Linked DNA regions of Homo sapiens: all the other regions are reported to be linked to region 7. The links are microRNA targets in miRTarBase. Many come from high-throughput screens and were not tested one by one. Region 7 holds a microRNA gene; each other region holds the end of a gene's coding sequence.
What was found. Region 7 holds the annotated microRNA hsa-miR-6124 (GGGAAAAGGAAGGGGGAGGA, at 1,683-1,702, shown strand). A microRNA usually pairs through its seed, bases 2 to 8, with sites in the 3' UTR of a target mRNA and lowers its output. Matches are read on the target gene's strand: a 7mer-m8 pairs with bases 2 to 8, a 7mer-A1 pairs with bases 2 to 7 and ends in A, and an 8mer does both.

Region 1: miRTarBase lists MAN1A2 as a target of hsa-miR-6124. Seed matches in the 3' UTR shown: 7mer-A1 at 2,610-2,616.
Region 2: the mRNA of SESN2 is a reported target of hsa-miR-6124. Seed matches in the 3' UTR shown: 7mer-m8 at 3,201-3,207.
Region 3: miRTarBase lists IKZF5 as a target of hsa-miR-6124. Seed matches in the 3' UTR shown: 7mer-A1 at 738-744, 7mer-A1 at 837-843 and 7mer-m8 at 1,070-1,076.
Region 4: miRTarBase lists DIPK1C as a target of hsa-miR-6124. Seed matches in the 3' UTR shown: 8mer at 2,093-2,100.
Region 5: miRTarBase lists KCNJ2 as a target of hsa-miR-6124. Seed matches in the 3' UTR shown: 7mer-A1 at 706-712, 7mer-m8 at 1,103-1,109, 7mer-m8 at 1,512-1,518 and 7mer-A1 at 2,069-2,075.
Region 6: the mRNA of PRUNE2 is a reported target of hsa-miR-6124. Seed matches in the 3' UTR shown: 7mer-A1 at 3,456-3,462.

Annotation. Positions count from the first base shown.
Region 1 is chr1:117,521,909-117,526,441 of GRCh38, reverse strand. MAN1A2 (mannosidase alpha class 1A member 2) reads right to left here. Exons shown (of 13, transcript NM_006699.5): 13 at 1-3,617. The coding sequence ends at 3,485. Among named protein-coding and RNA genes, the nearest start is that of TENT5C-DT, 82 kb to the left of the region's middle.
Region 2 is chr1:28,279,624-28,284,156 of GRCh38, reverse strand. SESN2 (sestrin 2) reads right to left here. Exons shown (of 10, transcript NM_031459.5): 10 at 1,666-3,441. The coding sequence ends at 3,355. Among named protein-coding and RNA genes, the nearest start is that of SESN2, 22 kb to the right of the region's middle.
Region 3 is chr10:122,990,958-122,993,957 of GRCh38, reverse strand. It overlaps IKZF5 (IKAROS family zinc finger 5), which reads left to right. Exons shown (of 5, transcript NM_001372123.1): 5 at 1-3,000. The coding sequence ends at 178. Among named protein-coding and RNA genes, the nearest start is that of PSTK, 12 kb to the right of the region's middle.
Region 4 is chr18:74,433,299-74,437,831 of GRCh38, forward strand. It overlaps DIPK1C (divergent protein kinase domain 1C), which reads right to left. Exons shown (of 4, transcript NM_001044369.3): 4 at 1,477-3,421. The coding sequence ends at 3,203. Among named protein-coding and RNA genes, the nearest start is that of DIPK1C, 22 kb to the right of the region's middle.
Region 5 is chr17:70,175,875-70,180,234 of GRCh38, forward strand. KCNJ2 (potassium inwardly rectifying channel subfamily J member 2) reads left to right here. Exons shown (of 2, transcript NM_000891.3): 2 at 1-4,170. The coding sequence ends at 449. Among named protein-coding and RNA genes, the nearest start is that of KCNJ2, 8.5 kb to the left of the region's middle.
Region 6 is chr9:76,611,020-76,615,552 of GRCh38, forward strand. PRUNE2 (prune homolog 2 with BCH domain) reads right to left here. Exons shown (of 19, transcript NM_015225.3): 19 at 357-3,581. The coding sequence ends at 3,551. The region is part of intron 5 of LOC105376095 (a long non-coding RNA gene); the gene reads left to right. Among named protein-coding and RNA genes, the nearest start is that of PCA3, 150 kb to the right of the region's middle.
Region 7 is chr11:12,162,010-12,165,074 of GRCh38, forward strand. MIR6124 (microRNA 6124) reads left to right here and starts at 1,674; the gene lies at 1,674-1,758. MICAL2 (microtubule associated monooxygenase, calponin and LIM domain containing 2) reads left to right here. Exons shown (of 28, transcript NM_001282663.2): 3 at 70-410. The coding sequence starts at 147. RefSeq lists an enhancer at 1,415-1,914.

The sequences.
Region 1 (4,533 bases), not on the chromosome of region 7:
CAGTAACACATTGTTTTAAAATATATTATAAACCTTTTCTTTTTCCTCTTTAATTTATATGAAATATAAAATTAAGAATTTTGTAACACGATTCATATTGGAAACATTTAAAATGTTGTGAGCTACTCTCATACAGAAAATGCTGTGGAATCACATAAAACATTCTAATGATTGAAAGTGCCAGGCACAATGCTTGGCACATGTTAGATACTTCATAAATGTTCGTTCACACATTCTCTCATTTACTCATGCACTCATTCAAAAAACTCCAGGCTTAAGGAGAAACTGCATTATAAATGAGAATGGCAAACACAATCTTTTATCAACAAATTTGGAGTTTTGACAAAGACTTTGGCAATGGAGAGTGGAGAAGATGAGAGGATGATGATTAATATTTCAAACTGCTTGGTTAAAATCTAGCAAGTATAGCCCTGAGTTGCTCTATATGACATCATAGAGGATCAGGGTCAATACTCCATAAAAAGAATGCATTTCCCTTCGATACCCAGGTTTTATTTTACATATAAACACCTGCTTAAAGTCAGGAATACGCTGATGTTAGAGAGATACAAAATGTGCAACCCACAAGAAAGTAAGAACCACCTGACTGGGGACTTATTTTTCTGAGTTGAGACTTCTTTTTGGTTAGGGCCCCATTCCCTTGGTTTTAACAACTTAATACTGGTTGAATAATAATAATAATAATAATCTGGTTTAACATAAAAAGTGTGATTCTAAAATGAAGAGAAATAAATGTAGAAGGAAGAACAGTGTTCAAAATTCCTATTTTTTTCGATTATGCACCAACTGATGTATCTATTCTGCACATTTGTGCCAAAGGCACAAGGTAAGGTGTCAGCTCTTTGAAGAGGCACCTGAAAAGGACCATTTCTGGGCTTTTTGCAGAAGATCTTATAAATGCAATGAATATTTAACCTGAGTATTAAGGTCTACAAAATGCAAAGAGCTGTAAAAGACAGAAGAAAGTAAAGAATATTCTTGGAAGCTAAGCATTATATGGGATAAGAATTGATCTTGAAGGAAATAATTTAAAAATCTATAACAAAAATAAAACATGACACTGGCAAGTCATTTGTAGCTGACTTTAATTGCCTTTGGTATTCAGGAGAATAAAAAAATGGAAGTACTTTTATAAGCTCTAGTCTTTCCATCACATAGAAGGTAAGGAGTGGTGAAGAAGACCCTTCCATTGTCCCTGTCAAATTCTTTGTTTGTACCAGAACTGGCTCTGCTTGTATACTTCCCTGCCTTCTCTTAAGCTTCAGTCATCTGGGTAATACAAATAGAGCACTTGGAAGTAGGGGTTCTGTCTCCTCATCCCTTGAGAAGTTCCTGCAGAACCAAGAAGGTCCCTTTACTCTGCATTCTTCTAAATAAGGTAAAAGAGAATTCAGAGAGTTCATTGCCATCTGCACTGCTGCTCTGCATCTTTGCCAACTCAAGTTTTTCACTTTTTCTCAGTGATTCATAAGTGGGCTTGTGCTACTTTTACGAGGAAGGCTAACATTTTTTAGAACCAAATACTTTCCCTTTTCCCTTCTACAGTTACAGTAATATATATACCTTTCTCATTTAGAAATTTAAATGTTCAAGTAGTAAAAGATATTACAATGTCAAAACATGTGCTATAATTTAACTCTCTTAAGGACTATTGTAACTGGCCCTGCATCCTTATTTTCTACTGAAATTTTTTTGCAGTGAAAAATTTTATACTGAAAAAATTTGCAGTGGTTATCATTTACGGATCAGTAGAACTGTCAAAATTAACGATTCGTGGTATAAGATGATCAACCTTAGAAAATACTATATTAGTTAATTAAGTCTTTCCCCAACTTAAAACCTAAGTTTAAAAGAAAAGCTTATCAAACAAGAAAATAAGCCTTCAGAATTCCAAGGTGGGCTTCTTGTACAAACTTTGTTTCAGGAAATCTTCAAATTCAGAGTAAATGTTATACTAATTATACTGTTTCTAAGTTTTATTAATGTCAATGGAAGATGCCTATATTAAATGAAAAGAGCAAAAGTATCTTGCACTGTCACATAAATTTAAGGACAGAAAATTTATAAGCACTAGATATTTATCTTACAGTTCCTGATAAAATTTAAGTTCTTTTTGTCAAAATATAAAGAACTAGTAGTTTATTTAAAAAGAAATATCAATGCAAAACCTACTGATAGTAAGATAAAGTTCCTTAGATGTATCCCAATTTTAGTGTAATATGATTAATTACAACACTCTTTTATCACTGAAAATTATTTTGAAACTATTCTGATTCTTTGGAATTCTATAAATATTCTTGGAGAAAATTAAAAAAACATAAAATATCTGTGAACAACTCACTCATCTGATGAGATTATAAATAAAAGATCCCCTGTCCCTATTCCAGATAGAATATTTTAGAAAGTTTCACTGTTTGTTCTGCTTTAGTAAGTTATAAAAGTAATTTATTTAGCTTATCAAGGCAAATTTAGAGCTGCCTTATAGTGATTTTTGCCAAGCCACATAAATAAAGTTGTAAGTTGAGTGACTCTACTAACTTTATTATGAAATTAAAGTGAATAAAATTTACTTGGTAGATGTGTTGGTCTGGAAAAATAATGTAGCAACAAAACCAAGGATTGCTCTTAGGTTTCAAGGCAACAAACTGCGGCATTTTCCCCACTTTCTGTCATGCTACCAACACTAGACTGAACTACATGCACAAAATCCCAAACCCAGGCTCATAAGTGGTGATTATGATAAATAGCAGTTTCGATGATTCCATAAGAAGAAAAAGACTTGAGTATTCTTTGTGAGATCATGCCCCCAGAGAAAATTAAACTTAACCAAGAAATTTCAATGAAATAGACTGGGATTTGAAATGGTTGCCAGTCTGGTCATCCAATGGGGAACTTGAAAATTCAGATAGGGATAGGTACTCCTGTTTCTTTTTTGAGTCTTCTTGTTACTGATATAATTATACTATTCTTTTGTTCTTGTTTATTTTAGTTCATTCCATTATTAAAATGGAGAAAAAGTGATAAGCAATATGTAAATATTTGATTTGAATGCTGCTCCACTGTAGGAGGAAACAAATACATAATTGGTTCCAAAGGCCATCTTGAACTCCTGCAAGGTGCTCTATATTCTTGACTTGCTTTCAGGAAGTCTAGCCTCCAGACTTCAGGACTCTAAAAACAATACAGTAGTAACAGGTATCATTTCTCATGTGACCACCTCATTAACGATCAAAGCACATCCAGGTCTCTGTCCTACACATATCAGAACATGTTTTGGTCAGGTATAAAATGGAATAATTTCAAAGTTGATGTATCTACAAGTTGAACAGTCTTAGGGGGAATAGTTTCACCCTGTCATGTTGACATAGAGGTCCAGGTTTTCAAAAGCCGCCCCTTCAAACTAATTTCTGTAGTGGTCCATGTAAACAAAACACAGGTGAGAATGGTCCTTCTGGAACTGCTTTCATCGAACAGCAGGATTACCTGAAAGTGTGGTGTTGGCTAAATGTAACACAGGCAGAGGGTGAGCCTCTGTATTAAACACCCAGTGGTCTAAAGGTAAAAGGTCATCACCGGAGAACAGCAGATACAAATATCTGAAAATAAAAAGGGGAGAAATGAGCTTCAGTTAGAATTCAACAAGAACATGAAGTGAGCTCACTTTTAATGGCACAGAAAACCAATAACGTATTTTGAGCAGCTTTGATGAAAAACATCAAAGAAATAAACCTCAGACACCCAAATGATCTAAACACAAAGACAAGAGGTTTCAGAATAGTGTATAAGAAATCCAGTAAGATGAACAACTAGACCTACTGAAATAAAACAGTTTAAAAAAAAATCCGGCCAGGTGTGGTGAAGAGAGCAGACACCTTTGTCTTGTTCCTAATCTTAAGAGCAACACATTCAGTTTTTCAATATGATGTTAGCTGTAGGTTTTTCATATATGCCCTTATCAGGGTAAGAAGTTTCCTTCTATTCCCAGTTTGCTGAGAGTTTTTATCAGAAATGGGTGTTGGATTTTGCCAAATAATTTTTCTGTCTACTGAGGTGGTCTATTTTAGTTCATTGATTTTCAAACATTAAATCAACCCTCCACACCTGGGATAAACCCATTTAGTCATAACATATTATCTATGTAATTTGTTGTTAGAGTTGATTTGTCAAAATCTTGTTTAGTTCTATCTATGTTCAGGAGGAATATTGGTTCTGATGAGGACTCTGCTGTCATTCATTTTTTTCCATAAGTTACTGGGGTACAGGTGGTATTTGGTTACATGAGTAAGTTCTTTAGCAGTGATTTGAGAGATTTTGGTGCACCCATAACCTAAGCAGTACATACTGCCTCATATTTGTAGTGTTTTATCCCTCGCCACCCTCCCACTCTTCCCCCAAACTCCCCAAAGTCCACTGTATCATTCTCACACCTTTGTGTCCTCATAGCTTAGCTCCCACATATCAGTGAGAACATACGATGCTTGGTTTTTCCATTCCTGATTTACTTCACCTAGA
Region 2 (4,533 bases), not on the chromosome of region 7:
TGCTAGATGCCAGGTACCTGAACTGTGCTAGGTGGTTTTTATGCATTATTTAATCCTCACAACCCTCTTGTAACCTTAGGTATTAATTCCATCCCATAGATAAGGAAATTGAGGAGGGAGTATTGAAGCAACTTGCTCATGATCGGACAGACATTAAATGTCAAAGCTGGAATTTGAATTTGGGTCTGTCTGTTAAATTGGTGTTCCCCAGATTCTCATTTGAGGTTCCATTTCCACATCTATAGGATGGGAACAGACCCTTTCCTCACAGGGTTGTTGTGAAGATTGGGAGATTAAATTTGAAAACATTTGGCAACAGTCACACTCAATGCATGCCACATAGGCTGGGCGCAGTGGCTCATGCCTGTAATCCCAGCACTTTGGGAGGCTGAGGCACGTGGATCACTTGAGCTCAGGAGTTCCAGACCAGCTTGGCCAACATGGTGAAATCCTGTCTCTACTAAAAATACCGAAATTGGCCGGGCGTGATGGTATGTGCCTGTAATCCCAGCTACTAGGAAGGCTGAGGTGGGAGAATTGCTAGAACCTGGGAGATGGAGGTTGCAGTTGAGCCGAGATTGTGACACTGCACTCCAGCCTGGGTGACAGAGCGAGACTCCATCTCAAACAAACACCCAATGCATGCCAACTGGAAAAGAAATGGAAAACTTTTATCCCCATTTCTATGGCTGAGGAAACTTGAGGCACAGGGAAATTAATCAATCTCCCCAGCGATATAGTGAGTGGCTCAATCAGAACCAGAATCCAGGTTTTGTACTCCAAGTGTGATTCACTTTCTCCCACACCCTCTCAAATGACTCTAGAGGAAGGGGAAGTGTATAGGAATCCTGCGAAAATGAACAGATACCTCAAGGGGAAGGGGAACACAAAGTCCACTAGGGGAGGCTGCCTGGAAGAGACCTAGTGTTCTGACAGCGGTATTTATAGGAAGTAGGAAGCCCGCGGGAGTGGTCTTAGCTCTTACATGATGTGGTTTTCCTGGTAAGCTAACTAGTTCCTGGTACCCAGAGAAGTTAAGAAGCTTGACCAAGGTCACACAGCCATAAACGGCACTGGCACAGCTTGGGGGTTGCACCTCTTTGTTCCTGGCGTTGTCTCCTTGGTGCTGGAGGCGGTAGGATGAGAAGCAGGTAATCATAATGTGGTGGGGTTGGGGACACAAGGGGGTCCTTCCAGATTCAAACAGCCTCTTTGTCACAGGGGAAGTCCAGTAGTGGGCAAAACAGCAAGGTAAAATGTCAAGGCCTCAGGGTCAAGCAGAGCAGGGGGGAATCCTGGCTCCCCCACCGATTAGCCATGTGGCCTCAACAACGTCAGTTCACCCGTCTCAATTCTCCTACAGGATTGCTGCAAATTCAGAGGAATGGTCTCCAAGTACCCAGCCCATGGCCAGGCTTAGAAAAACACCATGGTCATTATTACTCCACAGTGCCAGGGCAGCCGCAGAAGGGTGACAGGACTGGATGTCCAAGGGACAAGTAGACTTTCAGTGCCAACAGTCCCAACCTACAATCACTGGGCACAAGTTCTCGGCAGGGCAGGGGCTATCAGGTCAGGCCCATGATGCAATCACAGCTCTCTGCCTATGCTACAAGGTGAACCATGACCTTCAGGAAATTGAAAGAACAGCCCATAAAAAGGGAGTATGAAACAAAACCTCAGCGAACGTTTATTTCTCATCATATGGAACTGGTAGCAAAGCCAAAGATTTCTGCACTTGAACACTGGATACCACTCCCTACCCACCCAGTGAACATTTACAGTCATCACATGCCCTCTAGAACCCAGATCCCCATGCCGGGGCCTCTTCTCTCCTGCACACCTTCTTGCAGGGAGGGCTTTCAGGCCGGAAGGGGGTGCCGGTTGCTTCTCCGCGCCTGCACGGGTATTTAATGTGGCACACTGGCCAGGCTCCTCTCCTGCCCCGCCCAGCAGCAGCACGGCCCTTGCCTTTCTTCAGTGCCCTCCAAACTGGTCAGAGAGGAGGCACAGACTGCTAGAAGAAGGGCAAGAGAAGTCGTAATTCACAGTCATTTGCTACAGAAAGTGCCTGGAATCGGTCCTTGGCTGCTTCTGCCTGGAAGCAACCCACTTAAGCCCCAGGAGAGGGGACAGATGAGATACTGGGATGGGGGTGGGAGTCCTCAGAAGGCACCCAGGAGACACTGGCTGCAGAAATGGGGTCCCTGATCTTGCAAGAAAATCCGCTTGCTGTTGGCAGGTTGGCCTGAGAATCCCAGGGGCAGCTTCAGACATTGTGGGGACTCAGACCCACCCTCTCAGTCTGCAGCTGTGGCAGTCAGAGGTTTGGCAATGTAGCCATGGTCACCTGGCCATGGCCCAGGGGCAGGGTCCAAACAAGAACCCTGGTGCCTCCCGCCCCTCCTGCTGAGCCATGGTGCCACCTAAGCCATCTAGAAAGGCTCAACTTTTTGGGAGACATCTGCGGCAGGGCCACTGGAGGCAGGAGAGTGGGGTGCTGGCCTCTGCGAGGCAGGTGCAGCTCTGGGAGAACAGAATTCTCCCTCTCCTCCTCCTCTCACACACTGTGGCTCCAGGTTGGAACCTCAAGCATAAAGGACCAAAATAAAGAGGATTTATAATCTAATACTCCCTCCTCTTCAGAAGGCAATGTGACCAGCAAAGGCTCAAACTCTCTAGAGATAATCTGCTTTTTTTTTTTTTATGTACTTGGCCTCTCTCCTGACGCCTCACACCATTAAGCATGGAGAAAAGGGAAAAAGGGCAAAGGAAGTCAAAAAACTGAACTAGGATTCGGGCAACAGCCTCAGGCTGCCCAACAGAACAGGCTTTTAGGGAACTGGACACACAGACCAGCTGTGACCCTGACTTTCACATTGATGGGTGAATGGCAAGTAGGAGGTAATGAAATCTGGAAATGACAGGGGAGAGAAGGCAAAGCTGCCTGGAGTGTCAGTCCCGGAGGCATTTGCCCCTCTCCCCCGGGGGCCAGCCAGGGACTTCCCAGTTCAGGAAGGCCACAACACTTGTGGCACATTAATTCCGAGCTTGGCCCGGCTTCTTTCCTGTGCCCTCTGCCTCTGTGGGCAGGGGAAGGAGGAAGGGTGTGGTCCCTTAGGATCTCCAAGTGCTCTTCCAGCTCCCAGGAGCAGGGCTGAGATCCCAGAGTCAGTGCAATGAACTGTCCATTCCAGTGAGGAAAAGGGAGGGTGTGGCTTCGGGACTGCACATCACACACAAGCCCACTGCAGCGTGGGGAGGGTGGGCATGGGACACAAAAGGGTCTGGGGCTGTCTCCAGACAGAGAAGTCCTTGTGGGGAGCTGAACCGGGCCCAGGTCCTGCTCAGGAGTCAGGTCATGTAGCGGGTGATGGCACGGAGGGCGTACAGCAGAGCGGCTTGCATGCGCGCCTCCAGGAGCAGCAAGTTCACGTGGACCTGGGGCACAGAGGAAGGCATGTTGGCAACTGATGTCACTCCTCACCCCCACACCCCTCCCAGACTGCCTTGATCCCTGACCCACTTACCTCACCATTTCCTTTCCTACAGAGCTGCCCCAGCATCTGCTAAGGCTCTGAGCAGTTTAGTACAAGGACAAGCACATTCATTCCTATCATGACTAAGCTCTGTATTCCCTAAAGGTAAAATGGCCAGGTGCGGTGGCTCACGCCTGTAATCCCAACACTTTGGGAGGCCAAGGCGAGTGGATCAGGAGGTCAGGAGTTCGAGACCAGCCTGGCCAACATAGTGAAACCCCATCTCTACTAAAAATACAAAAAGTTAGCTGGGCATGGTGGTGGATGCCTGTAATCCCAGCTACTTGGAAAGCTGAGGCAGGAGAATTACTTGAACCCGGGAGACAGAGGTTGCAGAGGTTTATGTACATTTTTTTATTTTATCTTCCCAGCAACCTTGAAATACAGCAGTATTTATTCCCATTATAAAAATGAAATCCCAGCTACTTGGGAGGCTGAGGTGAGAGGATCACTTGAGTCCAGAAGTTCAAATACAGCCTGGACAATATAGTGTGACCCCATCACAAAAACAAAAAACTTTGAGAGGCTGAGGCAGGAGGATCATTTGAACTCAGGAGGTTGAGACCAGGATGGACAACACAGTGAGACCTTATCTCTACTAGGAATTTAAAAAATCAGGTGGTGTGTACCTCAGGCCCTCTGGGGGCTGAGTTGGGAGGACACTTGAGCCTAGGAAGTGGAGGCTGCAGCGAGCCGAAATCACACCGCTGCGCTCCAGCCTGGGCAACAGAGCAAGACTCTGTCTCAAAAAAAAAACAGGATAAAAAGCTCAGAGAGGCCAGGCACGATGACTCACACCTGTAATCTCAGCACTTTGGAAGTCCGAGACAGGTGGATCACAAGGTCAGATCAAGACCATCCTGGCTAACACAGTGAAACCCCGTCTCTACTAAAAATACAAAAAATTAGCTGGGGATGGTGGCACACGCCTGTAGTCCCAGCTACTCAGGAGGCTGAGGCAGGAGAATCGCTTGAACTTGGGAGGTGGAAGTTG
Region 3 (3,000 bases), not on the chromosome of region 7:
GCTTCTGCACCACTGCCAGCACTGTGATATGTACTTTGCAGACAACATCCTTTACACTATTCATATGGGATGTCATGGGTATGAAAATCCTTTTCAGTGTAATATATGTGGATGCAAATGTAAAAACAAGTATGATTTTGCCTGTCATTTTGCAAGAGGGCAACATAACCAACATTGATTGAAAATAGTCATATTTTACTTAGTTTTGCTGTTTTTGTGGTTTGGTTTTTTTTGTTTTTTGTTTTGGTCATCCCTAATAAAGTGTCTGCTAATTCAAGGCTTATACATTATATTTATAGAATATAAATTTGTCAGTGGAATAAAATTTCCCCTTTTTTTCATAAAAATCTGGTCAGGGTCATTTATATATTAGAACAGTTAGACACATTGGTGTCTCTTTTTTCCTTTCCTTTCGACATTGGAGAATTGGAGTGCAGTCATAATCTTACAAGATGTTCATTTGAATTTCTCACATTTATGGTCCATAAAAACTTCAAGGCTTATCCATACTTTTGATGTTTCAATATGCATTGAACTGGATGTTATTTCTGCCATATTTCAAAATGGTAGAATAAATTACAGAATTTATTACTACTCATTTCAGTGTTTAGTACAGAAATTGCCTTAAAAATTGCTATTAATTGAAATATCATTTAGTTCACATTCCTTAAGTTGAATCGGTAGTTTCATTTCAACTGATAATAGTAAAGCTATTTCAGTTTAGTAAAAATTTTCTTTTTTCCACAAGAGGAAATGTAAAACAGTTAAGACTTGAAATTGAAAATTCTTTTAATATTTAAAATAACTTGTTTATTCAATGTCTAAACACATGTCAGTTTTCCACTGGATTTTTATTTTCACAGGTAAATACACTAGAGTGCTAGATGCCTTTTTCCCCTGTCAGTTTGACTTTCATTTAAATCCTTCATTCTGATATCATTACTGTTAGGTGAGGTGGATAACTATAATGAGAATCTCTTATTCTTCCTATTCCTTTGATGACCAAAGAGATAAAGTGAAGTCATCCTTATTATTAAAATGCAGCCTCCAAACAAATTTCTCAAGATTCCTTTTCCTTCCTTCTATCCATTTTCTGCCCATAATTTCCAAGAAAAGGTGGGTATGGAAACACATGAGAGAATGTGATAGTGAAGTCATATTTACAAAACTGAGAACATGTCCAAAATGGATTCTTGTCTCCTCTTCAGAATTAGCCATTTAAAATATTTTCTGTGACTTCAAATTGTAATTCTTATTTGCAGTTTTACCAGTCTTCATGTACAGTGACGAAACTGTGTAGAAACTAAATCATCGCTTTAGTAAGAAAGGATAAAAAGGTGTGGAAGTGAATATAAAATGCATCTAAACATGACATTTAATTTGTTTATAAAAATAAGACTTACTAAATATAGAGTAATTCATTTTGAATAGGAGGCTATTGTTTTTATATTGTGTAATAACTCACGTACTCTGAAGAGAGCTTGGTCAAACAATAAAATACATTGTTACTAACTTGGTTTCTTTTCTGTGTACTTTGCAAAAATTCTATTTTTAATTTTGTTCATATGTTGAATGTGCCCCTAATTGGCATCTTAAAGAGAATAGTAAGCATCTATTAACCAAAAAAGAACTCTAATAGTAAAGGAAAGGGAAATATTGGTGGTATGTACCCACAAAACCCCCAAGTGCCAAGTTAATGGAATCTCTGCTTTCCCTTTCAGATGCTAGAAAGCCACTGTAATGAGTTCTTGCAGTTTAGCATCCAGTCTAAGCTACTGCATTGTTTAAAGAGCAGCATCAAGGACACTTTCTCCAAACTGGAACTCTCTTCTTTGTCAAATCTTGTACTTTAAAATTCTACAATTCTGTTACATTGTTGTTTAAATCACAGACTGCTCAGATCCATTTTACTGCAGTAGTTTCCAAGTGTGTAACTTGGCTTTAGTATTTATCAGTTGCCAGAAAGAAACAGGTTGTCATTTGGAAGTTTTTGTGGTTATTTTTTCCCATTTTTATTCTTCAGATAAAAGCAGTACCCCAAAATAGAAAATGAAAATTTTCATGAAACAAAGAGAACTCCCTTGTTAAAACCAGCTTATTAACTCTGTATTCTGTCAAATGCATTTTTTTCTAACAACTGACCATGGATGTTGTGAAGGTGCATTTTAATTTAAACATGGAAAAGATTTTTTTCATAATTACATACTAGAATGTAAAATTATAATTTTGCCATGACTTAAAGAGCACAGTTGATATCCCAAAGGTTTTGATGCTAAGAAGCTACAGTTATTCTAAATGCACTAAAATGTTTGAGGCAAATCTACCTTAGAGGCTTTTTTGGTATGGTATTTTTTAAAATATTTAGATTTTATTTAAATTTCCTGTGAGTTATTCTGTATTTGAAAAGATGTTCGTGTCTTCCCCTCTGTATTGAATGTTTCACTCATTTTATTTTTAATCAAATATTTTATAGAAATGAGTTGTTGGGAAGAGTTTAACATGCACTATTTATAGTACTTTGCCGTTAACAGGCAATGTTCTGAAACTAAATTTATTTTTGTTCAGTGAACATAAGTTTAGATTTTTAAAGTTGGTAGATAATTTATCTCCACTAATATTTTTTTAAGAAACTGTGAAGAGATTAACTGGGAATAATTTTATTTCAGATTTTACTAATGTAGTATGTAGCTACAACTTCTTGAACTTCAAGTTAAGGCTAGACATTTACTTTGAAAAAATTCCACTGGGTGTTTCCAGGGCTATTTCATTTTAGAAATAAGTGTTTGCCATTCTTCTGCAAAAACTGGACAAGGGGAATACTACAAAAAATACTCAGAGATAAAATCCTCATTTCAAGTTCTACAAAATATTTATCAAATGAATGTTAATTTTTTTTTAATTCCCTGCTAAAGACGTTTTCATTAGTCTTAGAGGGTATATGCTTTCTAGAACTTGTTTTTGTTAACATGTGCTTTGATGTAAAGAACATATTTTGTATGC
Region 4 (4,533 bases), not on the chromosome of region 7:
CTTTATGCGGTCATTGGTTTTAGAAATCTCCAACCCAACTCCTCCACTTACTGCTGTTCAAAGAATAGCTTCCAAATCAAGATTTAAAAGAGTTATTCTTCCAGTAATTTAAGGTAATGTCCTGGATGTTCATCATAGGTACTCTGGAAGGGCTGAGCAGGCTGGGCCTTAGTATGGGGCAGGATGCATGGGAGGCTAAGCCTGGTGGACTTCTAGGAGGCAGCATGTCTCTGAACTGTTAGCTTTAATTTGTCTCATGTGAGATGAGAATTGAGAGGAGGGTTTAGCAATATTGGCAGTGTTTGTAAACGTTTGTGATGTTATGTGACATTGCCAGTTGACATTGGCCAACTGACTCATTGACCAGTCTAGGTATCCACGAACTTGTCTCCTGAGCCACCTACGATTTCTATACAACCCACGTGTATTAAGGTTTGTCAGCTGTAAGCCAATGGAGTATACAATTATGGAATTCTTTCTTTTCATCAAATGAAGTTTTAACTACAATTTGTCAAGGTAAACTGTGGCAATGGAATCCTGATGAAGGACTGGACATGAATAAAGCACCATTTGCTTTAATTTGGATACAACTTAAAGAGGAATAGCCTGAGCTTGATGAGTTTACTTTATAATCTTTTTCAGATCCCATCAACATGTCTCTGAGAGTGTTCTGTCTACTATGTGTTATTACAACAAAACATAGAAATCATTTAGGGAGACATTTTCCTCTACGAGTGCGGTTGTTGCTCAATTAGATCAGCCAGAAAAAAACCGATTTGTCATATTCAAAATACTAAATATTGATATACACAGTGTTAATTTATTATGTTATATAAAAGCATTGATTTGCAAGGTTTCAAAATTAAAAACAAAACTGAGCTTCACCACAATTTGAGAGCCACTGCTCTAATGGGAATTCCCAGGCAGGGATGGAAAAGGGTGTGTGTGTGTGTGTGTGTGTGTGTAACTGTGTAGCCAAACATAAAGGGAAGAGATAAAACAGCTCCCTTTCAGCAATAAAACCACAATTGTGTTGGATAATTATATATTGCACAGTCTCCATCGTAAACAAAAACAATTTGTTTCCATTTTGGTTGAAATGAAAACTAACTATTTCTCTTTTCCAGGCTGGCTTTGCTGCCTGGTCAGTGAGCTCAGGCCACTAATGAATGGCTGGCATCCCAGCGTCTACCCACAAAAGACCCACTCTGACCTCCCAGAGCGAAACCCCACTGTTTAAAGGGCACAGAGGGCAAAGCCCTGGTGGCTTCCCTCCTTCCCCCCCTCCATCTCACACCCGTCTTCCTGTAAACCTTTTTGCTTGTAGAGAACCTGCCTAGAAGGTGAGCATGGCCCAAAGTATGCCCCGACCACCACAGAAAGGCATTGCACCCAGCGCAGCTCTGGGGAAAATCGGAGCCTCCACCCAATAGCCCGAAGCCCGCCCTTTCCTTTGGAATCCACTAGTCCTAGGCCTGGCCGTTGAACTTTGGTTTTAATTTGCTCGTGCCACAGGGTGACTGACATGGGTTTTTTCCTTCTTGCTAGAATACAATTGCAAAGCGAGTCTTCATGTCCATGATGAGGAGGCCCTCTATGGAACTCTGTGTCATTTGGAAGATCCCCAGTGGTGATGGGTAAGAATAACAGCTGGCAGTGGGCCTTCCAACAGGTCTTTGGGGAAGGCAGAATTTAGAGCTGGGGGCCTCTGATCATGCTAGTCCCTCACACACCATTTCTCAGCGTGCCCTGAAGGGCAGAGTCAGTAAATGTGACCCCAAAGTCTGGAAGAAGGCATTCCCGTTTCTCTGGTTTAGAAAGGGGCTGCAGGCCAAGATAAGAGACCATTTGGAATGTGTCAGTTTGTGACTTTCACAACGTCCGATTAATTTGTCTTCTTTAATGTGTAAACTGCCAACATGACTTCCTGATTCTCTCATCTTTCTCGATTTCCCTTTTCATGGGATTTCTGAAAAGGGGTGACCCGTTGGTTTGTTGAGCACTCGTGGGTCACAGTTATGGGTAGAAACCAGGTCCCTTTAAGTGAAAGCTCACTGGCTTCACCTGGCCTGTCCCCCTGCCTGTATTTTGCTGGAAAAGCCTCCTTGGGATCACCACTGATGAGCGTATCATGCCACCATAGGATTTGATGCCTATCACTTGGTCTTCAATCCATCAAAAGAAAGGTGCTGGTCTCTGGTCCTGCCTGGAGTCAATGCAGACCTCAGCATTTGCTCTACTTTAAATTTTCTCTGAAGGTGAAGACAATGCTGCATCAAGCCAACCTACAAGTCCCTGCCCAGGGGAAGGTGTATTGCAATACGAGGCGCCCTAAAACCCATCCATAACCTTGGTGGATTCCACAAAATGAAAAATACTATAAGCTGCCGTTACACACGCTCTCCAATGCAAATTCCCTTCCCTAAAGATGCAGCTTATTTTCTTTTTATTGTATTTAATTCCGAAAGAATGGTCACACTTCTTTGCTAGGTAGGCAAGATGTTCCGGAGGACACACTAGAGAAAGCACCACTCCCCACCCTAACCCACATCCCCAACACACTCACCTGCCCACACTCACACAATCACATACACATGCCCACACTTATATACACATGCTGACACCCGTGCACTCATGTGCACACACTCATTCACACTCATACATATTCACACTCAGGCATACTCATACTCCTCATGAGCACACCACACTCACCTGTGCACACTCACCTGTGCACACTCACACACATGCAGACACTCATGGGCACACTCACACATGCTCACATGCTCATTTGCACCCAGACACAGGCATACACATCATTTGTATGCACACACGCACACTTTTTAACGTGGTAACGATTTACAGGAAAGAACAGCTGGAACTCGTGCTGGGATAACCAGGTACAAGTGCTCTCTGCAGAGAATAAGTGCACACAGGTTGGTGTCTTCTGACCGAGAGCCCTCCTGAAGGGAGGTCTGTACCTCCTCCCTCATCTCATTTTACACAAGGCGACAGGTCAGAGGCCAGGGTGGGACGAGAGCGAGGGAGCACTGTCTCTGGCAGCAGCACTTGCCACTCCACAATGTGGAGACCAGAACGGCACCCCAGAGAGCACAGGGGAAATGGCTCATCTTTAAAACAATGGCAGAAGAAATCCAGCCAAGGTCACTTTTCCTGTGTGAGCATGTTTAAGGCCAGAGAGTGGCTACTTCTCTGCCTCCTGCAGCTCCCTCAGTGTGGCTTGGAGGAGTTGGCGAAGCTTCCAGAACACGCTGGAGGCTGCTCTCCGGGTGTTCCCACTGGGGACCCCAGGGTCTGCACATTCCTGCACCGCCTCCTGTAACTGCAGCTGAAGCTGGAAAGAGACCGCAGAGCTCTTGAGAGGCGCGGAAAACCAATGGCGAAATATTTTGTCACAGATGACCTGAGGGAAAGAAGGGTGGACAGTTAATTTAGGGCAGCAAATCCTCCTAAAAGCTTCCCAAGCCCAGGATTGGTTCTGAAACAGATTTCAGCTTCTCTCCCACCCCCACCCCCGTCCTTCAGGGAGCACACTCCAGAGACCATCCGATTTGGAAACATGCCTTCACTTCTGCCCCTTAAACCCTTCAGCACCATGAACAAAAGACGCCTCCGAGAGGAGAAGCCAACATCTGTGTGAGGCAGAAACTTCCCTTTCCAGCCCCCTAGCAGATGGACAAAGTTCTGGGTGACACTGTAAAAGGACTGGACACATTTCTAGGGAGGAAGGGAAGCAGAAGTCACAGACAGTCACTGCTGCAGAAGGAGTTGGTCCTTTGCAGGCCTGAGGGAGGCCGGCTTTGCTGTTACCACCTGGAGATGAGGTTTCTTATCCACAAGCTGGTCCTAGTGACAACAATGACCATCTGACCGGGCTGTCCAGAGGGCCAAATGGTGCGTGAGGGAGAAGTGTGTGAACTTGTATGGCTGCCTGTATAGCACTTTAAGGCTCATGAAACAAAGGCATATTTGACAGAAAAGACTGCAGGCATAAGGCTCTTTGAAGGCTCTGTGAAATGTGTTATTCTAGGAGCAGAGGTAAAAATTAGACACTCTCTTTAATTCTAATCGGGTATGAAATTCAGTGATGCTGAGGATCACTAGAAATTTCTCCCTGTAAACATGTTGTTTGTTTTATAGCTCCTACAGCTTCCCCCACGCTGGGAGAAATGACCTGCGAGCTGCGTGATGCATCATGCTTTATTTCTCTACATCACACTTTATATCAGACTCAATTAACAAATGCCTCCATTGTAAAGAGCTACTGCTTCATAGAGGACAAAAACCTTCAACTTCCATTTCACAATCCCTGCAAAAGCAAGGATTCTTTTCAAAACCTAATTATGGTTTTTTTAAAATAGAGAATACATTTTCATGTGCAAAATTTAAAATGTTCTTAAGGCTAGACCGTGATCTCAGGCTCCACCTCACCCCGATGCTCAGCTCCCGCTCTGAGAATGAGACATTCTTTGACATACACACTTCCTTTTCCTTTCATTTTACACACAGGTAATA
Region 5 (4,360 bases), not on the chromosome of region 7:
TATATGATTTGAGTAAACAGGACATTGACAACGCAGACTTTGAAATCGTGGTCATACTGGAAGGCATGGTGGAAGCCACTGCCATGACGACACAGTGCCGTAGCTCTTATCTAGCAAATGAAATCCTGTGGGGCCACCGCTATGAGCCTGTGCTCTTTGAAGAGAAGCACTACTACAAAGTGGACTATTCCAGGTTCCACAAAACTTACGAAGTCCCCAACACTCCCCTTTGTAGTGCCAGAGACTTAGCAGAAAAGAAATATATCCTCTCAAATGCAAATTCATTTTGCTATGAAAATGAAGTTGCCCTCACAAGCAAAGAGGAAGACGACAGTGAAAATGGAGTTCCAGAAAGCACTAGTACGGACACGCCCCCTGACATAGACCTTCACAACCAGGCAAGTGTACCTCTAGAGCCCAGGCCCTTACGGCGAGAGTCGGAGATATGACTGACTGATTCCTTCTCTGGAATAGTTACTTTACAACACGGTCTGTTGGTCAGAGGCCCAAAACAGTTATACAGATGACGGTACTGGTCAAGATGGGTCAAGCAAGCGGCCACAAGGGACTGAGGCAAGCACAATGGTTTCAAAGAAAGACTGTAAGCTCCATGATTAGCATAAAGCACTAACCATGTCTCCATGTGACCCGATGGCACATAGATGTTGTAGAATAAGTTATGGGTTTTTATGTTTTGTTTTGTGTTTTTCCAAAACTTGAACTTGCAGGCAAGCCTTGGTTGGGTATTTGATTTATCCAGAATGCTTCTCTTTAGGGAACAAGGATGTTTTTAATGGCATAACAAAGGCAAGACTCTGCCTTAATTTTTGAAAAGCTGCTAACTACATGAACACAAATGTGTATTTTTGTTGCAGTGTAGTTTTCCTTTTGTGTAATTTTAAAGTCAGTGTTGAATTTTATTGAAAGCTCATGATGCGCTTCAAAGTGGCAAGTATTTGGCTATTAACTGCCAAAACAAGAGCCTGATTTTTTGAGGCCAGTAATTCGTTTGCTAGAATTGATTTTTTTTCTCTCTCTCTTTGTTACATAAGGGCATTATGTAACACTAGCCGAATGGTAGCCTCTGGGTTGTTGTTTTTTTCTTTTCCTCCATGATGTTAATGGGTTATCTCAAATTTTAAGTTAAACTACCTAAAATAAATACCAAAGATAATGCATATTTTTGCACAGTGGAGCTTACACTTAAAAGAAAACAAAGCCCCATGGGCTGCCTTGAAATCAAGAGACAATAACTTTGAACCTCAGCAAGACCTTGAACCGCCGGTTCATTTTGCACCTTATTCAGAAAATAGAGCATCATACTCACCGAGTCTAGTCAGTGTAGTGCTTTTAAAAATTTTGTCCTTTCATGTAACTTTTTTATTTTAAGAGGAAGAAGAAGAAAGGGGCACACACACACAATACCGACGTCTATCCTTTCCTGCTAGGCAGTGCTGGCCAGGCTCATGTGTAGTGTGCGAGATGGTGATGTACTCTTATATTTTTCTGGGCTTTTCCTTTTGCACATTCCAAAATTCATTTCATAAGACAAGATCTTCATAGGACCTCCTTGGCATCCTGGCATTCTCAAAACTGAGCCATCCAGCATGAAAGATAAATGGGTTTAAACCCTTGCTGCTGAATTTATTGCCTGGACTGTCAGGACATCACCAGCCCACCTTCACCTTAGGGAAGATGCCACACCTGGCCTCCACACTTGCTCTTCTGATCAGTCTGTCTGGATTGAGTCCTACAGTGTCAGATAGGGCGGCAAATGCCAAAGCAGGGAAACAGGGAGGTGTGGACAAGCCAGTTTGATGCAGCACTTCAGATCAAGTGCTTAGGAAGGAGAGGAAACTTGCCTTTTTTATGGCAGAGGATAGTAATGAAAATGTCTCAGTATTTTAGGGTCAATGAGAGCCATAAAAATATAACATAATCACAAGTAAAGGAGATAATGGTCTAAAACAGCTATTTCCCTTTTCTGTGTGCATACTTATGACTGAATGTGAGCTAAGCATTTTCTCCTGTGGAGCCCTAGAGCAGGTTACTAAGGAAGGACACATTGTTTTCCAGAAGCCTCCCCTGCCTGGCTGACTGCCTTGCTAGAAACATAATTTTTTTTTTCTCACTGAAGCTCAATAATGGAACTCTTTTTTTTTTTTTTTTTAATTTAAAGTTCCCTATTTGTGAATTCTGGGATTACTGACTTTTCTTTTTAATTGGAGTCTCAAAATCAACTCTCTTATGGTATTATATCTCTGTATGCCATTAAAAAACAGCTTGTTCTAGAATCATGTATTTTGTAAACTGATGTTTGTGATGGTCTCTGGTTCTTGAACAGCCATATCTGAATGCCGTGCCTGCAAAACTATGACAATTTTTGCTGTTTTCAGCCTTCAGATTTGATGGCTTGGGAAACTGAGGTGTTATTTTCAATGAAACAAAGAAAGAGATGTTAAGCAAGTGGTTGTTTTAGATCCAAATGTAAAGGCAGGTTTGGGAAGGTGTTTAAAGAGTTGGAGGAATTGGGGATTGAGTTGTAAAGAAAACTTACAGAAGAGGCAACAATTTGGTTCTTGACAGTGAGAGGATATTGAGGGCTTCAGCTGCTGCTATTATGATGTTTTGCAAAGGAAAATAATCAAACCAAAGAGTATTCAGTGATATGTAAATTAAATGAAGATACAGTGGAGAATGGGGGTGACCACAAAAGAGGCTCCCCCTAAACACACAGTGCTGCCACTTAAAAAGACTTGAGAAATTTGAAAGGGGGTGGGTATGGGGGGGGCAAGAAAGAGGGAGGGAAATCTTTCAACTTATTTCTGAAAAAGAGAAAAAAATATAAAATTTCTGGTGCACAGGTTTGTTTTTTCAAGAAAATTTTGCAGAAGCTATGTTTTTAAAGTGTACATTTTATAAAGTTTATCAGATATTTTCATATTTAAAGCCAAATGTAAATAGAGGTCTGTAAAGAAAAATAATTGCCATAGAAAGTATAATTTCAGTGCAGTAATTTCTGAGAGCTAGTACCTATATGCTACCGGTTAGCATGGTTTTAGCAAATATATACCAGCCTTATAAGGTTCGTATTGCTATGTTCTTCTGTTATTTATTTCAGCATGGACTGTTCATTTGAAACCTTTTTCTAGTTATTAGCGTTTTAACAGTTACAAGCTTTAAATGGCAATTTTTTTTTTTTTTTTTTTTTTTTTTTTTTTTTTGTCAAGAGCCAAGACACAGGTAATGCACGACATTGATTGCTGCATTTTACCTTCAAAATATTTGTCCTTATTGACTGGGTCTCCTTAATTAATGTACACATGTCATTAGAATGCAGACGGAGGGGACTCACCATGAATATCTGGGGTTGATTCCCAGATGTGTGTTGCTTCTCTATTGCAAGCAGATTCCCTGTTGGATTTACTTCGGATTTATTCCCTTTTAAAGAATTTTTGCCCATATCTGGAAGGGCACTATATTTTTGGGAGGAGCCATAGATTCCTGGTTATCCTATTTTTAAACAAAATGTAGACAAAGTGAACTCTATTTTGATTATTGAGAAAGGAGTAGTTTTCTATCCCTCTAAGAGTATACTTGAATCAGACATTTTAAGGATGTCACTATGGCACTGTTGTCATTTCCAAATTCCTAGAAAAGTTTGTTTTACTTTGTTTTTATTCTGTTAATGCATTCTTTCTTCTCTTTACTTCCTTTCTTACCAGTACACTCCTATCTCAACTCTGTTTATTTGATGAGTTCTGTCCCGTAAATCATATTTCCCTTACAATTAATAAATGTCACTTCATATTTTATAATAAACCACTCAGTAAAAGCAAAAGCTTGTCCTGAGAAGTAGAGTGAGTTCTTTTTCACTCTGTGTCTAATAATGTTAAGGTGGGAAAAAAAAAAGTGTGGCATAGCTACCTGCCCATCCCCAACCCTCAGCAAAGTAGAATCTCTTTTCTGGTAATTTTGGGTTTCCGCTCTGGGCTCTGGCAAGTTGAACAATCCTAGCCATTGACAATCGTGATAGTTATTATTTTCCCATTTGCTGTCTTTTTGTATCTAAAGTCTTCCTATTGTACTGCACAAACCATGGATTGTACATATTTTTATATATTATGTCTTATTTTATTATTTCTAAATAAAAAAATTAAAAATTGAAAACAAATTCTTGGAAGAATCTTTGGGCTTCCCGTATGATTACTCTAGAAACACCATAAAGCAAATGTTCCCAAACAATGGAACATAAACCCTGATAGGTTAGATGCATAGAGCCATAGAAATGGCCTCAACAGACAGGTGCAGTGGGGTGACAGATTAGTTTAATTCAAGTTAGAGGAAGTCAAGCTCATAT
Region 6 (4,533 bases), not on the chromosome of region 7:
ACTAAAAATAAAATGATATTTAAACATTTTAATTTAAAAATAAATATATGCCATAAAAAGGCAAGGGGAAGAGAGAGGAAAAGACAAAAATCAAGTAACCATGAAACATGGAGATGTTTCCAAAGTAAGAAATCGCTTATCCACAGAGTAAACAACAGTTTGAAAGCTCGGTGTATTGAACTCTGAGATAGGAAAGGCAAAAATGAAGAGAGAATAAAGTTTGGGTGTACAGAAAAACCAAAATGTATACAGTCCTCCAGTACCAAGTGCCAAGCTAGATTGATGTTGAGATAAAACTGCTGCAAAGTGAAGCCAGAGAAAAATTCTTGCTGACTCAAAGAAAGAAAACCATCACATGCAGAATCAATTTTTATTTCTGAATTATACAGTGAGGCTATATAGATATATTGTGTCATTAAAGACTTTTATATTATTAATCTACATTATGGAGAATTTATTTACCAAAACGAAGTCTAACAGACACTTTATTCTGAGCAATCCAATGCATGATAGAAAAACCTTTAGATATATAAAAGATTAATTTGTGCACATCTAAATGTTTCTAAGGGAACAAACTACTGAGGCATTGTGATAAGACGAGAGTTGCAAACATAGTACCATAACTGAATATTTAAAATTACATCTTAACAAAGGCTAGGAGTAGTGACTTCCTCACACACCTCAGAGAATGTCTTAGAGAGTAACCCCATAGAACATTGTATGGCTTCAACAGAAACTTCAGGATTTTCTTCCACACTGAGCTACTGCCCTCAAACAAACTTTCTCACTCCTTGACACTATCTTCTGTGCAAATTTCTGTTCTTTCTCTTAATCAAGGAGCTTTGAGAAACAATGCTTTTGCCCCAATGACCCCTTGGTTCCCTTAACTACAGATCTATAGGAGAAATGCAAAGCAGTTCCCAGAAGTCAGAACCAAAGCAAGAATGTTCAGAGTGCAAGAGCTAGAGAGCTAAATCATGTGAATGTTTACCTCTGTCTACCTATCTGCTTAGGGATTATTTTTCTAGGATTCATCTAGGATTCTATTTACTTGGGGTGAATGTACATGGTAGCTTTTCCCTAGCACATGCAATTAAATTAATTTGTCTTTTAAGATAATAAAATAGCAGATACCTAAATATCAGAGTGGTTATGCAGCCTACAGAACAGCTGAAACAAAATCATTGGGACAAATGCCCATAATTTTCATGTAGGAAGATGAGGCTTCAAACAGCATACCACCTGAGTAGTTTTCCATAGATGAGCTGGACAAGTTAAAAATATATATATAAATGGTGAGATTGTTGCTGTGTCTGTTTGGCTATAACAAGAGCCCTCTATGAACAGCTCTATGCCCTCAGGTTTGCACCACTACACTGAACACTGGATTTTTCATTACTTCCTGTGACAGGGTGACCATGGAATTCATTTTACAAAATGGGATGCTACTGAGTGAAAGTAGCAAATAGGTGAACAAACAGGAATATTGGGTAACTGTATTTACGTCAACACTGTGTTCTGGGAGAGGTGTAATTTGGGCTTTCAAAAGTGGAGGTGGGCTGTGGGAGGGGGTGGGCTGTAGGGTTTTTCTGTCCAACAAGCCAGATGTTATGAAGGAGGAGATCCAACAGAACATACAATTCAACAAGATACTCGCTTGAAAGGATCAAGAGGAGAAAAGAGAAAACGATGGAGGCTTATGGAGGAAAGAGGGCTGAACTGCGTGTGTGTGGGCACGTGCGGAAGGACGGGAGGAGACAGAGGTGAAGCAATGAGGTCAGAGAAACTCAATCACCTGTGCAAAGATGTCGACTTTAAAGTAGTTACAAGCTCCTTCTACCCAGGACTCCAAATATCCTGGACAGCTCTCCCCAATGAATTTTCCACCATGAGACTAGGGTGGAACCGCTCTCACCCCTTCATTTTTATTTCTGCCAGCTTCTTTGTAATAGGAGACACTGGAGACTAAGAATGGTTCCCAGAGTGAGGCACGGACTTCAGCCAACACCTGTATATACTAAAGAAGTGCTTCTAAGAAGGCTTCATTTTGGCAATTGCAACCTAAGCAGTGATTTTGTGGCTAGGACTCCTCATGTTTTTCAGCAAGCCATTTCTTTTATTTCACTGTCTGTGGATGTCAAAACATTGATTTTTGACAAAAATAAATTAGTTTGCAGCCTCATTTGTCCGTTCTGTTAGAGAAACTATCTAAATACAAATTGGGGTGGAGTAGGAAAGGATGCGTTTGCTAGAGCAGGGGTCAGCAAACTTTTTCTGTAAACATAGTCAATGTTTTAGGCATTGTGGGACATACGGTCTGCTGAACTGCTCAGCTCTGCGGCTGTAGTGTGAAAGTAGCTGTAGACAGTACAAAAACAAGTTTGTGTGGCTGTGTTTCAGTACCACTTTATTTATCGGCACTAACATTTGAATAATTTTCATGTGTCATGAAATATTCAAAAAAAATTTTTCCAACCCAAAATGTAAAAACCATTCTTAGCTTGCAGTGGTGAGCGAGACTTAGCTGTGGTTTGCCACCCCACCTCACTAGAGGCCTACAGACTTGAAATCTTGTTGGCATTTTAAAGGGCATATGAAGACTATAAAGGAAATATTTTGTACATGAAAGTAATACTCATATTTAATTTTAAGCCTATGATCAGATTACGGTGTTTTAAAGCAGATCACTTTTTATAATGCATGCGAGAGAGGAATTCATGAATAACTGAATGCTACCAAATGATTTTTGAGTAGGCCACCTTGCACTTGAGTTCTTGGCACTTAAAAGGTAACCTCTGGAGCTGAGTTTATGGCCTGAAACTCAGAGAGCTACCAAACATGCAACACGGATTCTTAAATTTCACAATGTGGTGGTCACCAACATTCATCAGGAAAATGATGTTAAAAGACCAATTTACATAAAATATAATGCCCAATTTGACAACTAAAATAAAGTTGACGTGGATTAGAAAGCCCGGCTTCCCTTTGAGAAGTTAAAGGAGATTCTGGTAAACAAGAACAAAACGGGCACTTAGCTGATGATGGTTTTACACCTTGTGTGGTTTGTGGCTGTCCTAGTCAGGCTTAGGATTTTAAAGGTGGAGTCAAACAGGGGAAACTTTCCTGGGGAGAGTTGAGACCTGTGTACTTTAAACCTAATGCAATCACCAAAAGGAAATCCAGCTAATCTATGGAAACAAATCCACTCATACTTAACAGTGGATTAAAGGTATCTTACTGGTAAACACCAGTCTAAGGGACAAAGTATCACTACACCGTGTTAATGAAGTATTGAAATGGAAGGTCCTACTTTCTTGCTAAGGCTCAACTAAAATCTTTGAGGCACATAATTGGCAAAATAGGAAAGTACACACAATTTCATAAAATATCTTAAGAGTAAACAAACTTTCTATTTTTCCCCTTAGAAATTTAGAATGGCACCAGGTAGTGCAAAGTGGAAAAAGGTAACATCAGCCCTGTCTCTTTCAGGTAGATATGTTTCAACAGAACCATGAACCAGAAAAGCATCCTCTTCTTCCAGCATGGCCAACTAAGGCTTTTCTTTCAGCTTCAAGTCAATACTGCAAAGAAAAGAAAAAGAGAGAGAAACATGAGAAACCAAATGAGAGACATTTAGTAATGATTTGGGTAGCACTGTGTTTGCTTTTTTCCTCAAAGGACATACTGAAAATATTTAAATCATGCAAGTTTCTTATAATAGAAAAATCTGGTAAAACCCAATCCTCCTCTTGTCAGGCTTTTCTCCAACATATGAAATCTGTTTAGTTCTACAAAATCGTTTCTGGAAGCATTTTACACCTTTTCAAAATGATCCAGGGAGGTAAAAAACTCATGTAAAGGCTCATTCCCAAAGTCAATTAAGATAAGGAGCATTAGTGTATTCCAGAAATCATGCCATTTTATTTAATAAGTGACCTTTCCTTGTGAAGCAAACAAATGTTCTGCCTCAAGTAAGTAATGTCTGACAAGCACTAAATAGTAAGAAATGGTAAACAACAAAACAACACCAAACATTTTCTAGAAGCCAAAGGAATTGACTGAAAGGGGTTAGCCTACCTTACTGAGATGGATGTTTATAACTAAAGAAAAGCTTGTTTTTCAGAAGGTCAAATGGGTTCCCAAGTATCTGAGGAGTAAGCCTAAAACTCACTCGAATCACGTCTCTCTTCTGCTTCTTAGTGAACACAGCACAACTTCCTACCGCATCCACCCAAGAGGAAGAAAACCAAAAGCCAGTAAATAGAGGAAGAATTTCAGTTGCGATAAAAGAGAAACTATTAGTTTGCAAAGGGTGATTTGGCACGTATCTGTGGATTTTGCTTATCTCTGCTCCCTGAGCCATAAGCTTGCATGTTGCAAAGGTTACTGTGCTTTACTTGTGGAATTTGCGGCAGCTGAGCAGTGTTCATTCTAGAAGCTTTGCAAATAAAGCCACTGGCAACTCACGCTGCCTGCCCATCCAGTTTACAGTAGTAAAGTATCTTTCCTTTGAAATATAGTCAGCAATTCCGT
Region 7 (3,065 bases):
TCTCAGCACCCATCCCCCACCCTAACCTCATCGTCCAAAGCTGACCTCTGCCTCCCCCTACTTTCACAGGTGTGACGTTTCTCCAGATACTTCATGCTGTTCACCTGTGTCCTCGCCGCACCACTGCCGCACACGACTCCTGAACCATGGGGGAAAACGAGGATGAGAAGCAGGCCCAGGCGGGGCAGGTTTTTGAGAACTTTGTCCAGGCATCCACGTGCAAAGGTACCCTCCAGGCCTTCAACATTCTCACACGACACCTGGACCTAGACCCTCTGGACCACAGAAACTTTTATTCCAAGCTCAAGTCCAAGGTGACCACCTGGAAAGCCAAAGCCCTGTGGTACAAATTGGATAAGCGTGGTTCCCACAAAGAGTATAAGCGAGGGAAGTCGTGCACGAACACCAAGGTAAGGGGAAACCCTCCTAGTCTTACCTTTGCAGGGCGTGTGGGTTGACATTTGGGAGGTTAGGAAGCTGTTGCCATTTTGGCACTCTACGGTTCTTAGGTGTGGGTGTGAATGTTGCATTGTTTTCCTCCGGTAAAGGTTTCCTTTGTCTCTAAGCATCAGCTTTTCCTGGCTGGGAGGTTCCCTCCACTCGTGCCCTCTCCAAGGGAGGGAAGCCAGAGGCAAAGTTGAGGGAGAGAAGCCCATGCTTGATATTACCCCCACTTCTATTATCCCTGCTGCCACTACTACTACTTCTAGTAGCTGCTATTTGTTGAGCAGCTTCTAGGTACAAGGTACTTTATGTCCATGATTTCAATGAACAGCTACAGCAGTCCTTCAGGCCATTTTAGAGATGGGGAAATTGAGAAGTCAGTTGTGCCCAAGGTCACACAACTAGAGGGCAACCTTAGTCCATCTGATTCTAGGGCCTAAGACCTAAATCTCAGGGAGAGGCATAGTTACAGAGTTGTGTTCGCCTGGGTGTGGACATTTTAGAAAGATCCCCTGGTTTTGGATTAATTGGCTAAGAAATAGGTCTAGGTCCTTACTGCCTCTTCCTCCCTGTCTCTTTCTCTTCCTCCTGATACCCCTGCATTCTCCACCTGCCCACTCCCTTCCTCAGGATGCATTTCTCTACCTAGGACCACACTCATAGTTAAGCCTACACGAACTGGTTGCATCCCCCATCATTTGGCCATAGACAGCATCGGCGAACATAGGCTCACTATCGCAACCTTTCTCTGACATTTCTGAAATGCCCAGCACCAGATGGGCAGGTGGGAGTCCAGGCGTCTCAGCTGACTTCCCTGGTGGCCGTTGGGGACTACCAGCCCTGAGCACTGGTGCAGGCTGTGTGTTTAGGTTAAAATCGAATGTGCTGTATTTAGACCTCACAGGAGGTAGCTCAGCTAGAACCCTAGGAATTCCAGCCGGTGCCAATCCCGGGACAAGAGGATTGAACTCTCCATGGCAGTCGGGACTGTTGTGTTTTTGTTTTGGTGGTGAGAAGCTGTCGAGTCCACCATGGGATATGCTGCTTTCCACTGCCCCTGGGGAGACAGCTGCCAAGCTCCTGTGAGCCTGGGGCACACTGACACTGCGGGACGTAGGAAAAGCATTCCATCAGGTTGAAACAGACCAGTCGCCTCAGCCCAGAGCAGACTAGCTATCCAGGCAGTGCCTGTTTATAACCTACCATGCTCCAGCTAGGCAGAGGAGATGGGGGAGGTAGGGAAAAGGAAGGGGGAGGAGAAGGTGAGACCAATGTCCTGGGTGCCACTCCTGCCCAGTGCCTCCCTTCCTCGTTGTTGTGACTTCATGGTTCAGAGTTCACGGGGTGGCTCTTCAGAGTTAAAGGAGGGGAAGCTTTTAGCTTCCAAAGTGTCATCCCTCTTAGTAATTGTATATGGTGGCTTCTTTTTTTTAAAGGTCCCATAAAAGTCAGGTGGCCCAGTTGCACTGTGTTCTCTCACAGAGGGTTTTCAGAGCTCTGGTTTTTATTAGGGAATGCTATTGCCCCATACACCCAACATGTTGTGGCTGCTGAGGGACCCTCTTGGTGATCTGAAGACAGATTGTCACAGGGAGTCAGCCAGCAGAGGGATGGAACGGAGGGCTGACCACCAAGAAGAGACCCTTCTTCCAAAACATACTAGCCAGTTGCCTAGCTGGTGTGGCCAGCCTCTATTTTACAAGCTTTGGTAGCTTGAAATAGAACAGTCATCACATCTTGTGGTTGGCAGGTCACCACTGGCTTCTGTGATGCAAAGGGAAAGAAAGCTCCTTTTGTTAGGGATGCTGGGTAAGGTGCCTCTTGCCCAGGAATTTTTATGCCTGTCTTGTGAGGAAGAACAAAGACATTTCACATGTGAGATAACCCATCTCGTAAAAACCGCCTGAATGCTGAGGACTGGAAGATACATTTGAGAATGCATTGTAAGTATGAACTGTGACTGTGTTAGGCTACTTGAGCTGTGCTTTTCAGAAACCCAGCTCAAAATAACCACAAAGAACAGGAAAATCATTGACTCATATTAACAGGAAGGTCCAGACACTTTAAGTCCTGACCTTAACTTGGGTGCTTTGATGCTTTGCTCTCTATTGGCTCCATGCTTCCCTCCTGCAAACACATTTTTCTCCATGTTCGAAGCCTCTCATTCACATCTTTATAGCTCCATTCCAAAAGGCTGGAATCTGTCTCTTCCAGGTCAATATTGAAAAAAACCTCAGAGAAGGATTCTAATTGGCCCACTTCTGGATTTATTATGGCCAAAGCCAGAGGAACTGGCTACTGTGATTGGCAGCCCTTTCAAGCATCACATGATTGATGTGAGGGAGGAGCAAATCCCCAAGGATGTGGGAGTGTGAGACAGATAATCAACAGGTGTCCTTGGCTGGGCGTCGCGGCTCACGCCTGTAATCCCAGCACTTTGGGAAGCCAAGGCAGGTGGATCACTTGAGGTCAGGAGTTCGAGATCAGCCTGGCCAACATGGTGAAACCCCATCTCTACTAAAAAATACAAAAAAAATTAGCCAGGTGTGGTGGCAAGTGCCTGTAGTCCCAGCTACTCAGGAGGCTGAGGCAGGAGAATCACTTGAACCCAGGAGGCATAG